4 linked regions of the Homo sapiens genome follow. The protein of the gene in region 1 interacts with the protein of each later gene in a biochemical or structural test. Each region holds a gene or a part of one and is shown on either strand. Other genes may lie near its edges.

Evidence for each region.
Region 2: the proteins of TRPV4 (region 1) and ARHGEF10 interact in a test that uses a peptide from one of them, tested with the Homo sapiens proteins (one large-scale study listed by BioGRID).
Region 3: the proteins of TRPV4 (region 1) and TMOD3 interact in a test that uses a peptide from one of them, tested with the Homo sapiens proteins (one large-scale study listed by BioGRID).
Region 4: the proteins of TRPV4 (region 1) and IFFO1 interact in a test that uses a peptide from one of them, tested with the Homo sapiens proteins (one large-scale study listed by BioGRID).

What each region holds. Positions count from the first base shown.
Region 1 is NC_000012.12:109,788,399-109,791,898, forward strand, and holds part of TRPV4 (transient receptor potential cation channel subfamily V member 4), read right to left. Parts: intron 345-3,500; coding exon of another isoform or gene 319-344; coding exon 2-318; intron 1-1. UniProt on the Homo sapiens protein: Non-selective calcium permeant cation channel involved in osmotic sensitivity and mechanosensitivity. Activation by exposure to hypotonicity within the physiological range exhibits an outward rectification.
Region 2 is NC_000008.11:1,952,926-1,956,033, forward strand, and holds part of ARHGEF10 (rho guanine nucleotide exchange factor 10), read left to right. Parts: intron 1-3,108. UniProt on the Homo sapiens protein: May play a role in developmental myelination of peripheral nerves.
Region 3 is NC_000015.10:51,912,939-51,916,225, forward strand, and holds the end of TMOD3 (tropomodulin-3), read left to right. Parts: 3' UTR 1-2,787; downstream 2,788-3,287. UniProt on the Homo sapiens protein: Blocks the elongation and depolymerization of the actin filaments at the pointed end. The Tmod/TM complex contributes to the formation of the short actin protofilament, which in turn defines the geometry of the membrane skeleton.
Region 4 is NC_000012.12:6,546,043-6,549,542, forward strand, and holds part of IFFO1 (non-homologous end joining factor IFFO1), read right to left. Parts: intron 3,443-3,500; coding exon 3,434-3,442; intron 2,808-3,433; coding exon 2,626-2,807; intron 2,504-2,625; coding exon 2,383-2,503; coding exon of another isoform or gene 2,119-2,382; coding exon 2,023-2,118; intron 1-2,022. UniProt on the Homo sapiens protein: Nuclear matrix protein involved in the immobilization of broken DNA ends and the suppression of chromosome translocation during DNA double-strand breaks (DSBs).

The DNA of each region.
Region 1 (3,500 bases):
CCTGCAGCTTCCAGATGTGCTTGCTCTCCTTGGAGACCTGGCCCACTGTCTCGCCCATGAGGGCAATGAGCATGTTGAGGAGCAGCACAAAGGTGAGGATGATGTAGGTCACCAGCAGGATGATGAAGACCACGGGGTACTTGGTGCTGCTCAGCATCTCCAGGTCGCCCATGCCGATGGTCAGCTTAAACAGGTCCAGGAGGAAGGTGCTGAAGGTCTCGCTGTCACGGCACGAGGGGTAAGTGGGCACTGTGCAGTTGGTCTGGTCCTCATTGCACACCTTCATGTTGGCACACGGGTTCAGGAGGGAGACCAGGGCTGTGGGAGGATAGGGGTGGCACTCACTGAGTGTGAGCACACCCACAGAGAGGTGGAGGGTGTCATTCTCATTTGCTGGAGGAGAAAGCTGAGGCCTAGTGAGCGGAGCACGCTGGCCCACACGCTGACCCATGTCACCCTACACATCAGCCAAGCCACACCAGACCCAGGTCCTCCTGATCCCAAAACCTTTGAAGCCTTTCCATAAACTCTTGCTGATAAGGAAGAGGTTATCTCTCTCTCTCTCTCTTTCTTTCTGAGATGGGGTCTTGCTATGTTGCCCAGGCTGGAGTGCAGTGGCTACTCACAGGCTCAATCCCACTACTGATAAGCGTAGGAGTTTTGACCTGCTCTGTTTCCAACCTGGGACAGTTCACCCCTCCTTACACAACCTGGTGGTTCCCTGCTACCGGGAGGGAAAAGGTTTTCAGGATCTAGTCCAGGGAGGGTCTCAGTTTTTCCCACCAGGGGACATTTGACAATGTCTAGAGACATATTTGGTTGTTACAACTGGGGGTGGGGGTGCTACTGGCATCAGGTGGGTGGAGGCCAGGGGTGCTGCCTGACACCCTACAATGCACAGGATGGTCCCCGCCACGAAGAATGATCTGGTCTCAAATGTCAATAGTGTTGGGAAATCCTAATGCGGCCTACCATTCTTAGAGGTCTTGGGGGCTCTGGAATGCCCCTATTCGCAGGGGTAGACTCTCTCTCTGACAGTTTCCCACTCCACCCCAACCCAGAGAGGAAAAGTGGGGGCTGAAACCAGGCATCAGTCCTGACTGTCCCCAAAGCCGTGTTCTCTAAGGGGCCTCTCCTGCTCTAGACATCTCAAACTCATCATGGTTCTCCTTTCCTACTAAGCCCAGGTGGAGCTTCAGATTCCTTCTCAACACAGTTTGGCAGCAACAACCTGTCCCTAAACCAGCCAGGGAGGGGAGCATGAAGAAGACTCAGTCCCATCAGTCAGTGGGGCACAGAATGTCATACTGCCTGCAACCAGGGATTAGAGTATGCAGATTTCAACTCATATGCTAATGTTCTTCAGTTGTATAGTACCTGGTGAAACACTGTGTTGAGAAGGATTCTGAGACCTTGTCTGGACTCACCGGAAAAACTGTTCTGTGATCCATTAGTGATGTCTGCTATGGACACCAAAGTGTGGGAACAGAAGCATGTGTGTCCTGTTTATGTCATGTCAGCCTCAGAATTGAGATCTAGTGCATCCTATAAGGAGAAGACCTGCAACCAAGCTGACTGCTAAGCTGCTACTCTAACCCTTGTTTCTCCTTAGTTTCAATAACTAGGACTGCAGTAGGGCTAGATCCCTGACCTGAATCCCAAACTGTTGTTGAACCCTTGACACTGTCTAGTTTGTCCAGTGTGATCCCTGGGAAGGGAAAGCTGTACCCTGTCCCTATCTCCCCAGTGAAAACTACAATTCCACTTCCCACCAATAATCTACCTAGAGACTTGGCCACTATCGTGGGTTAAAATATCACCCTTGTCAGATTCCTGTGCCAGGCTCGTCCCCAGATGAACCTGCTCAGATGTGTATGTGTCCAGGTCTAACCTGAGTTGGCCATTCCCCTTTGGATGCTGGGCATTGATGTCAGATTACCCACACCTCGGGGATCAGCCCAAGGACTTGGTCAGTTTCTCCAGCCCTGGTCCCTGGTCCTTCTCCCATGACCCATGCCACTGAGGTCCCAGAATGCTTCTTAGTGGCATCATGACATCACGAAGAAGGTATATCAAGGGAGCTGATGTTGGGCTTTAAGAAAATACCTGGGCTGCTAGTTTAATTATTAAATTTTATCCTTCCATGTATCCATCCTCCTTCAATGTGGCTTTACAGCTTCTCCCACTAAGAAGTGGAGTCTAGGCCAGGTGCAGTGGCTCGCGCCTATAATCCTGCACTTTGGGAGGCTGAGGCAGGAGGACTGCTTGAGCCCAGGAGTTCAAGACCAGCCTGGGCAACATAGCAAGACCCTGCCTCCACCAAAAAAAAAAAATGGAAAAAAAGAAGTGGCGTCTATTTCCCCATCCCTTGAATCGAGGCTGGCCTTGTGACTTGCTTTGGCCAACAGAGTAAGGCAGCAGTGATGCCATGCCAGGAGGTGTCCTTGAACACTTCTGCTCATGTTCTTGGAACCCTAAGGCCACCATGTGGACAAGCCCAAGCTAGCTGTCCAGAAATGAGTGACCATGTGGAAGATAGATAGCAAACCCCCTCTAACCAAGTCCATACTAGCTAGACCAGTCAGCCAGCAGCCAGCCTGCCAGCTGACCACAGGCACAAGAGCCTGTAGGGATCAGCCAAACCTGGCCCAGGGCAGCACAGCCACCCAGCTGACCCATTGACTCATAAGCAATAGTAAGTTGGCCTGGTACAGTGGCTCACGCCTGTAATCCCAGCACTTTGGGAGGCCAAGGTGGGTGGATCACTTGGGGTCAGGAGTTCGAGACCAGCCTGGCCAACATAGTGAAACCCCATCTCTACCAAAAATATAAAACTTAGCCATGCGTGGTGGCACACGCCTGTAATCCCAGCTATTCGAGAGGCTGAGGCAAGAGAATCGCTTGAACCCAGGAGGCAGAGATTGCAGTGAGCCAAGAGCACCACTGCCCTCCAGCCTTGGTGACAGAGTGAGACCTTGCCACAAAAAAAATAATAATAATAAGTGGGTGCTATTTTAAGCCCCACTTTAGGTGGCTTCCTTTGTAGCAATAGCTAATACTCCAGTTTTGCCATTCACCAGCTTTTTTTTTTTTTTTTTTTTTGAGACAGAGTCTCGCTGTGTTGCCCAGGCTGGAGTGCAGTGGTGCCATCTTGGCTTACTGCAACCTCCACCCCCTGGGTTCAAGCGATTCTTGTGCCTCAGCCTCCCGAGTAGCTGGGTCTATAGTTGCGCGCCACCATGCCTGTCTAATTTTTGTATTTTTTGGTAGAGACGGGGTTTTGCCATGTTGGCCAGGCTGGTCTCAAACTCCTGACCTCAAGTGATCTACCCGCCTCAGCCTCCTGAAGTGCTGGGATTACAGATGTGAGCCACTGCGCCCGGCCACCATTCACTGGCTTTTGAACTTGTGCTAGTTATTTAACCCTCCTAAGCCTCAGTTTCCTTTTCTATAATAGGGGATAATAAAGGCACTTAGCTTACAGGCTTGTTGGGAGGCAA
Region 2 (3,108 bases), on another chromosome or scaffold:
CAATTCATATTATCTGTGGTTTTTCAGTGTATTATAATGACTTAATAGACTGTTTAATTGGAATTATCAATTTATATATTTTTCCATTTTTTACCTTAGTAGTCCAAGGAGAATCTTATGTTTTTATATTCTGTTTACTGCCAGAATTAGTTTCCATCATTCCTTTCTGTGTTTTATATTGTGGAGAAGGAAGCCGGGATCTCCGTTGTTCCTTTGTGTGTTTTATATTGTGAAGAAGGAAGCCGGGATCTCCGTCATTCCTTTCTGTATTTTATGTTGTGAAGAAGGAAGCCGGGATCTCCGTCGTTCCTTTCTGTATTTTATATTGTGAAGAAGGAAGCCGGGATCTCCGTCATTCCTTTCTGTATTTTATGTTGTGAAGAAGGAAGCCGGGATCTCCGTCGTTCCTTTCTGTATTTTATGTTGTGAAGAAGGAAGCCGGGATCTCCGTCTTTCCTTTCTGTATTTTATATTGTGAAGAAGGAAGCCGGGGATCCGAAAAGGCTCCATTGTGCTATTGCAATGTCAGTAAGAGCTCAGGCTGGAACACATGGCCTTTCTGGACACAGTCCCGTTAGGGATTGGAGGCCTTAAAACATGCTTGTGTGTCTGGAATCAGGATTCCCAATCCAGGGAATTGGCCCAGGAAACAGCCTAAGCTAGGAACAAAGTATGATGCAAGAAGACATTTGCCACAGCATTTAATTTTTAACAGCACGAAACAGGAGGTGACCCGCAGTTCGTAATGACGGATTGGGCCATTTAATAAAATGGTGGCATTGCCGGTAATGGGTAGAACACAGCCAGCAGAAGTGGTGTGTGCAGAGCCTGCAGTGACGCGGAAAACTCCTCGTCCTGTTAAGTTCAGTAAACCACAGCCTTAGATTCTATGTGGGTTACTATGTCAGCCAGGGGGAAATACTAACAGAGAAAACGCTTTGCAGGAAGCTTGTAGAGCAGAACTGTTCCTACGGGCTCCATTTCTGTGATTTCCTCCCAGGCCGACCTGACGGTGGCTTCCGTGCACTCAGATTTTGGCAGGTCCACCCACAAGGATTAAGGAATTCTAGTTTTGCCATTCATTTCCTAATTTATGTTTTTATTATGATATATGGGATTGTACATGTTGAGGACCCCAAATCCAAAAACAAAATGCGAAATGCTCCAATTTTTTTTTTTTCTTTTTGAGACGTAGTCTCACTCTGGCACCCAGGACGGAGTCCAGTGGCACAGTCTCGGCTCACTGCACCCTCTGCCTGCCAGGTTCAAGCTATTCTCCTGCCTCAGCCTCCCTAGTAGCTGGGATTACAGGCACCAGCCACCATGCCTGGCTAATTTTTGTATTTTTAGTAGAGGTGGGGTTTCATCATGTTGGCCAGGCTGGTCTCGAACTCCTGAACTCAAGTGATTCGCCTGCCTTGGCCTCAGATGCTCCAAATTCTGTGTCGACGTGATGCTGAAAGGCAGTGCTCATTGGAGGAATTCAGATTTTGGATTTCAGATTTGGGATGCTCAACCGGCAAGTGCAATGCAAATATTCCAACATTAAAAAAAAAAATCCAAAACACTTGTGGTCCCAAGAATTTCAGATAAGTGACACTCAGCCTGTAAATACATAGAATTGTGCATAACGCACAGTTTCACAGTTTAAATGGTAACGAGAAGAGGCCACCTGCCTGTGCCCAGGTCAGAAGGGGCTGTGACTCACACACTGAGCCTCAGCTGCCCCTTCTCAGCCTCAGCCCTCTCTGCTCACAACCCTAGGAAATGATGATGCTGAGTTTTACGTCAATTATTCCTTTGGTCCTCCTCTGTAGTTGTACCAATTTGTATCTTAAAGGGTACTTTTCACCTTTCCGGCTTTTGCATTTTCCTAGCTGTCCCATGGTGCAAGCAGCCTCTGTTGCTTTTTCTCTCAGCCTTGCTGGGGTCAGTCCCTGCTGGTGCCACAGCTATAGTGCTTTCCTCTCCCTGCCTGCAGCCTGCCTCTGAAAGGAGGTGCCCTCATTGCCTCTGGATGGATAGCCAGGTGCTCCCTGAAAGGAGGTGCACTCTCACTGTTCCTCTGGAGGATAGCCAGGTGCTCCCTGAAAGGAGGTGCACTCTCACTGTTTTTCTGGATGGGTAGCTAGGTGCTCCCTGAAAGGAGGTGCACTCTCACTGTTCCTCTGGAGGATAGCCAGGTGCTCCCTGAAAGGAGGTGCACTCTCACTGTTCCTCTGGAGGATAGCCAGGTGCTCCCTGAAAGGAGGTGCACTCTCACTGTTTCTCTGGATGGGTAGCCAGGTGCTTCCTGAAAGGAGGTGCACTCTCACTGTTCCTCTGGAGGATAGCCAGGTGCATCCTGGAAGGAGGCACACTCTCACAGTTTCTCTGGATGGGTAGCTAGGTGCTCCCTAAAAGGAGGTGCACTCACTGTGTTTCTCTGGATGGGTAGCTAGGTGCTCCCTGAAAGGAGGTGTACTCTCACTGTTTCTCTGGATGGGTAGCTAGGTGCTCCCTGAAAGGAGGTGCACTCTCACTGTTTCTCTGGATGGGTAGCTAGGAGCATCCTGAAAGGAAGTGCACTCTCACTGTTTCTCTGGATGGGTAGCTAGGAGCATCCTGAAAGGAGGTGCACTCTCACTGTTTCTCTGGATGGGTAGCTAGGTGCATCCTGAAAGGAGGTGCACTCTCACTGTTTCTCTGGATGGGTAGCGAGGTGCTTCCTGAAAGGAGGTGCACTCTCACTGTTTCTCTGGATGGGTAGCTAGGTGCTTCCTGAAAGGACGTGCACTCACTGTGTTTCTTTGGATGGTAGCTAGGTGCTACCCATTTGCATTACACATCAAGCCTCTGTATATTTGTGTGGCTGGCTCTGCTGACATGGGCAGAAGCTCCTTCTGGGGGCTTGCCCAGGGGCAGCATCGCTGGTGTGCAGGGATCACAGGTGTGTGCTTCGCCAGGTGATGAGCGGGCCTGTCCCTGCACAGTCCCCCCAGCTCCTGCTCCCTGCAGACTTCACTTTGCCACTCTCCTCTTTGGGAAATGGACTCTCACCACGGTGGAAGATTCAGTGATGTCATTTGCCTTGGCCAGAGTAGGATGATGGTGAGGGCTGGGGCCTGT
Region 3 (3,287 bases), on another chromosome or scaffold:
TTTTTAAATTGAGAAAATAGTATTCAGAGGCAAAGATTTTTATATTCTTTTTTGAGACCAAGTCTCACTCTGTCATCCAGGCTGGAGTGCAGTGGTGCGATCTCAGCTCACTGCAGCTTCCACCTCCCAGATTCAAGTGATTCTCCTGCCTCAGCCTCCCAAGTAGCTGGGATTACAGGCGTCCGCCACCACGCCCGGATAACTTTTTGTATTTTTAATAGAGACGGGGTTTCACCATGTTGGCCGGGCTGTTCTCAAAGTGACCTCAGGTGATCCACTCGCCTCGGCCTCCCAAAGTGCTGGGATTACAGGCTTGAGCCACCACACTCAGCCTTATTCTTATATTTTAATTTGGTCATTCTTAGATCTACAGATTGAACATCCCTAATTGAAAACTTTTTGAGTACTAACATAGTGTTCAAAGGAAATGCTTATTGGAGCATTTAGAATTTCAGATTTTCAGATTAGGGATGCTGAACTGGTGTAATGCCCAGTATTCCAAAATCCAAAATAATTTGAAATCTGAAACACTTAATGGTCCCAGCATGTTGGATAAGGGATACTCAACCTGTATTGATTTTTCTCCACTATAATTCAGTTCTATAAGTTCTTCCCTATAAAAAATGAATGAATTAGAAATTTGATAATAAAACATATTTTATTAATTTTAAACTCTATCTTGCAGTCTGATCATTCAGAAAGGTCAACCTAGAAAAAAGACATGGCTAAGTAAACTATTTTAAGCCATAACTAAGTATTTTGGAAAGCCTTCATTAACACATAAAGAATTTTGGCCAAGTACTGTGGCTTATGCCTGTAATCCTAGCACTTTGGAAAGCCGAGGCCGACGGATCACTTGAGCTCAGGAGTTTGAGACCAACCTGCGTAACATGGTGAAACCCCATATCTACAAAAAGTACAAAAATTAGCTGGGTGCGGTGGCGCATGCCTGTAGTCCCATCTACTCGGAAGACTGAGGCAGCAGAACCGCTTGAGCCTAGGAGGTGGAGGTTGCAGTAAGATGAGATCATGCTGCTGTACTCTAGCCTGGGCAATGAGAGTGAAACTCTTATCTCAAAAAAAAAAAAAAAAAAAGAGCTATACTCATAGTACTTTGGGAGACCAAGCAGGGAGGATTACTTGAGACCAGGAGTTTGAGACTACCATGGACAACATAGCAAGACCCCATCTTTACAAAAAATTTAAAAATTAGCCAGACACCTATAGTACCAGCTACTTAGGAGTCTAAAGTGGGAGAATTGCTTGAGCCTGGGAGGTTGAAGCAGCAGTGAGCTTTGATCATGCCACTGCATTCCAGCCTGGGTAACAAGAGTGAGACTGTCTCAAAAAACAAAACAAAACAAAAAAATGGGTTTTTTTGTTGTTGTTTTTGTCTTTTACTTAGGACACCTGCTCTAGAGGCTAGATAAAAATAGATTGTAATGGCCGGGTGCAGTGGCTCACACTTGTAATCCCAGCACTGTGGAGGCTGAGGTGGGCGGATCACTTGAGGTCAGGAGTACGAGACCAGTCTGGCCAACATGGTGAAACCCCATCTCTACTAAAAATACAAAAAATTAGTTGGGCGTGGTGATGCGCACCTGTAATTCTAGCTACTTGGGAGCCTAAGGCAGGAGAATCACTTGAACCTGGGAGGCAGAAGTTGCAGTGAGCCGAGATTGTGCCATTGCACTCCAGCCTGGGTGACAGAGTGAGACTCCATCTCAAAAAAATATATGTATTAAGAAATACCACCAGCAGTGTTTTGCTAACATAGCTGTAACAAATTATTAAGTTCTTTTTTTTTTTTAAGATGGAGGTTCACTCTTGTCGCCCAGGCTGGAGCGCAATGGTGCGATCTCAGCTCACTGCAACCTCCGCCTCCTGGGTTCAGATGATTTTCCTGCCTCAGCCTCCTGGGTAGCTGGGACTACAGGTGCCCGCCACCACGCCTGACTAATTTTTGTATTTTCAGTAGAGACGGAGTTTCACCATCTTGGCCAGGCTGGTCTCGAACTCCTGACCTCGTAATCCACCCGCCTCGGCCTCCCAAAGTGCTGGGATTACAGGTGTTTGCCACCGCGCCCAGCCCAAATTATTACATTCGTAAGACAGACACCTCTTAGAATCTATATATATGAGGTTTTACTCCCTTTTCTACACTCAGTATGTTTTAATTGATGCAAAGCAATTAATTGGCCTAAAATGTTTCAAATATTATAGTCTATACATTCAGAAAGTAAGGTTTAAGAATGAATTATTGGTGCTTCTTGGTGGGTGTATATAGCAGTTTTTAGAAGTTTAAATTTCACCTCTACTCAGAAAGATAAGCTTTTGATTCAGTGGTTTCAAATTTTCAGATCAATCCATTTAAGAATTGTTTTTTCAAATGTATATACACGTATAACATAAAAATTTTTGTAATTTCAAATGTCTTTTTTTCAGTTTTTTGGATGAATTATTATATTTGGTTTTAGTTACATTTAAAAGCTTGAAAATTACCTTTCTAACAATCATTTGAATGTCATTCATTGTCACATGAAATCAGGTATTTACGTTTTTTTCTAATGCTAAAATATCCAACATTGTAATTGCCCTATTTTTCCATTTTTATAAGTATAAAAGCAATGAATTTTAACACTGGTATTTAAATAATACAAAATATTATCCAAATTCATAACAGCACAGTGAAGTTTCTTTTGAAGACTATGTACTGGAAGCATTTAGAACTTACCAATATATACTGGGATAAATCGTTTCAATAAAGTTTATCAAATATTCTGTAAACTTGGACTTTTTGAAAAAGCACATAATCCCTTTAGTTCCTAAGTTCTAAAATTCATTCCTTACATCCTTCTTCAAGAAAAAGTTTATCAGTTTCCCTGAGTTATTCAGTCCTACCTGTTATGGACTGAATGTTTGTATCCACACCCGCCCCCCCACCCCAAATTCACATGTTGAAGCCCTAACCTCCAATGTGATGGTATTTGGAGATGGGGCCTTTGGAAGGTAATTAAGGCTAGATAGGGTCACAAGGTTGGTCCCCTTATGATGGCATTTGTGTTCTTATACAAAGAGACAGGAGACTCTCTCCATCATGTGAAGATACAGCAAAACAGCAGCTGTCTGCAAGCCAGGAAGGGAACCCTCACCAGGAACCAAACCATGATCTCGGACGTCCCAGCCTCTAGGAACGTAAGCAATAAATTTCTGTTATTTAAGCCACCCAGTCTATGGTATCTTGTTAGGACAATCTGACCTGGCTAAATACCACCATATTAAGTTGA
Region 4 (3,500 bases), about 100 Mb from region 1:
TGAAATTGTAAAGAAGGAAAAAGAAATTTGTGCCAGTTTTGCTGTCACACCTCGAACTGCAAAAGGTACCGCCACAGCGCACGCTAAGTGCTTAGTTAAGATAGAAAAGGCATTGAATGTGTGGGTGGGAGACATGAACAGAAACACGTTCCAGTTGACAGCAACTGGACCCAAGCTATCAGGAGGTCAGTGCTATCTTTGGTTTCAGGCATCCACTGTGGGTCTTGGAACACATGCCCTGAAGATAAGGGGGGACTACGTATGAATCTCCCATGTGGGCCTGAAGAGAGGCTGAGACGCAGAGAAGGCTCCATGCCTCTCCCAAAGTCAGAGCGTCGGGAAAGGACCACCTCACCAGGCCAGGAGAGCTCACGGGGGTCCCGTCCATCCCTCCTCCCACAGCAACAGCAACCTCCATTCTGTGGTTCCACAAATCCTTCTTCCTTTGTTTGTATTTTTGAGACGGAGTCTTGCTCTGTCGCCCAGGCTGGAGTGCAGTGGTGCGATCTCGGCTCACTGCAAGCTCCGCCTCCCGGGTTCACGCCATTCTCCTGCCTCAGCCTCCCGAGTAGCTGGGACTACAGGTGCCTGCCACCACGGCCAGCTAATTTTTTTTTTTTGTATTTTTCGTAGAGACGGGGTTTCACCGTGTTAGCCAGGATGGTCTCGATCTCCTGACCTCGTGATCTTCCCGCCTCGGCCTCCCAAAGTGCTGGGATTACAGGCGTGAGCCACCGCGCCCGGCCTCCACAAATCCTTCTTGCAGCTCCTAAAGCCTAGAGTTTGAGCTAAAGCACCAGCTCCACTTGCCTCTAGGTACCTCTAGAAGGTACTTCAAGGCTTGGGAAAAAGCATGGAGATTTCTCTGTTATCTCAAAGGCTGAGTGGAAGAAACAGGAAAGTCCCAGTCCATCTCTGAGTGCCATGGCACTGATAGTGTTAATAATAATAAAACAGTCCCCACTATGCTACACTCGCTATGAGCCAGACACTGCCCTAAGCTCTATATATGCATTATTTCATCTGATCTTCTAAACAACCCTATAGGTGAGGTATTATTAAATTCCTCATTTTACAAATAAAAAGGCCCGGCACAGTGGCTCATGCCTGTAATCCCAACACTTTGTGGGGCCGAGTTAGGAGGACTGCTTGAATCCAGAAGTTTGAGGGCAGCCTGGAAAACATAGTGACACCCTGTTCTCTGTAAAAAAAATCAAAAAATTAGCCGGGCGTGGTAGCACACGCCTGTGGTCCCAGCTACTTGGGAGGCTGAGGTAGGAGGATTGCTTGGATCCAGAAGATCACGGCTGCAGTGGGCCTGGAGTGACAGAGCAAGACCCTGTCTCAAAAAAAGAAAGAAAGAAAGAAAGAAAGAAAAAGAAACAGGTGTAGGGCTGGACACATGGCTCATGTCTCTAATTCTAGTACTTTGGGAGGCCGAGGCAGGAGGATCACTTAAGCCCAAGAGTTTAAGACCTGCCTGGGAAACACAGGGAGACACCATCTCTACAAAAAAATACAAATAAAAATTAGCTGGGTATGGTGGCACACACCTGTGGGCCCAGCTACTCAGAAGGCTGGGGTGGGAGGATCACTCCAGCCTAGGCAACAGAGTGAAACAGAGTGAGACCTTGTCTCAAAAAAGAAAGGACAGAAAGACAAGGGAGAGAGGGAGGGAGGGATAGAGGGGGAGGGGAAGAGAGAGAGAGAGAGAAAGGAAGGAAGGAAGGAAGGAAAGAAAGGAAAGGAAAGGAAAGGAAAGGAGGGGCTCAGAGGGAACAAGTAACTTATTACAAGTTCAGGGTGGTTGTAAGTAACAGAGCTGAGATTTGAACCGATATCTGTCTGTTTCCAGAGCCTGAGGTCTTCAGAGCCCACCAGGAGGACTATAGCTGAGAGATCACTCCTCCTCCCAAGACCTTGGTCTCTAGGGTCCTGCAGCAGGGATGAGGCCACTGCGCCTGCAGCCCCACTCAAAACCCTCTGGGACACCACGCCCCTGGCTTCCGCTCCTGCCCTTACCTCTATCTGGTCAATGGTCTCCTGATACTCCTTCTCCCGGGTTTTGAACAGGGACTCCGTATCTTTAATCACCTTCTCCAGGCTATCTTCCTGCTGCTGGAGTAGAAAGGGAAGCGGGGGAGGCCAGCCAAGGAGGGATGGGATGGGACGCATTCCAAAGGGCCAAGTCAGGGAGAGAGAGAGAGAGGAAGTCTGGTTAAAGAAACTGGAGAAAGAAAAGCAAAAGGATAAAGGAAGAGGGGAGACGCAGGTAGAGGATGACAGCCACATGGGGGGACAGAGCAAGGAGAGGAGCGGGGGAGTGGGCTTCAGGCTGGAGAGGCAGAGCCAGAGGGCCCTGAGGCCGGGAGCAGAGGTTACCTCTCCCTGGGCCTCTGCAGCTGCCATGGCATAGCCTGAGAAATCCTCCCAAAGCAGCAGGGTCTCCTCAGTCTCCTCCCAAGTCAGGCTGTCACAGTCGTCCTCAAAATCATACTCCCTCCTAGAGACAGGGAACCCGGGTGTCAGGGCGGGCGGGGCCTCGTCCTGGCGGGGGACTGGGGAGCTCCGGCCTCCTGGGCTGCTGTGGCGTCGGTGCTGCGGGAGCACGGCCTGCGGACTCACAGCTGGTTGAGCATGCGCTGCATCTCCTCGTTGATGCTGAGGGCTGTGCTCTCCTCCTCATCCCCATCGGGCTGGCGGGGCCCCTCACTCTCCGACAGGGAGGTGTCCTCCTCGACGGCAGCCTTGCGCTCCCGCTTCCGCCCCCCCATGGATGGGACCTTAATGGGAGACAAGTGCAGAGACTACAGAGACGAGGCCGGGTGCATGAGGAGAAAGGGCGGGAGCGGGAGGCCGGGCAGAGAGGGTGGGAATGGGGGAGAAGCATGAACCAGTAGGAAGGGGGGGCAGACAGAGAGAAAAGTCACAGTTACAATGACAGGAACAGAAACACGGACAGTCACCAAGGGCCAGACACACAGCGGGGGTCAGGGCTGCAAACCGAGAAGGCAGAACAAGAAGAAATCGAGAAGAAGAGCAGTCAGACAAGGAAGGAAGGGCTCGCTGGGGCTGCAGTCAGATGTGCATGATGGCTCAAGAGGAAATTTTTTTCTAAAAAAAGTCTTTTTGATTAAATGACTCAACTAAAAAAAAAAAAGCTTTAGGACGCAAGGAGGATGAGTGTGCAATGTGTACAAAAGAGAACCTGAATCACATCCAGATCTGGAAAGCCGGGGGAGAAGGGAGAGAAAGAAATGCAGTCAAGAGAACAAGAGATAGAGAGAAAAAGGGGGAAGAGCAAGGAAAAGGGAAAGGGCAGAAAAAAATCCGTGCTCAAGAGCCCAGCGGGCCCAAACTGAGGGCCAGGAGGCCTAGGCAGCTTAGAAACTGGGACTGGGACATTAATAAGCTTGCGTGAGATCAAACTAACCAGCTTCTTCTGTGGAGGAAGCAAGAGAGAAGATGAGAGGAAGAGAGGAGAGGAAGCAGACAGAGGA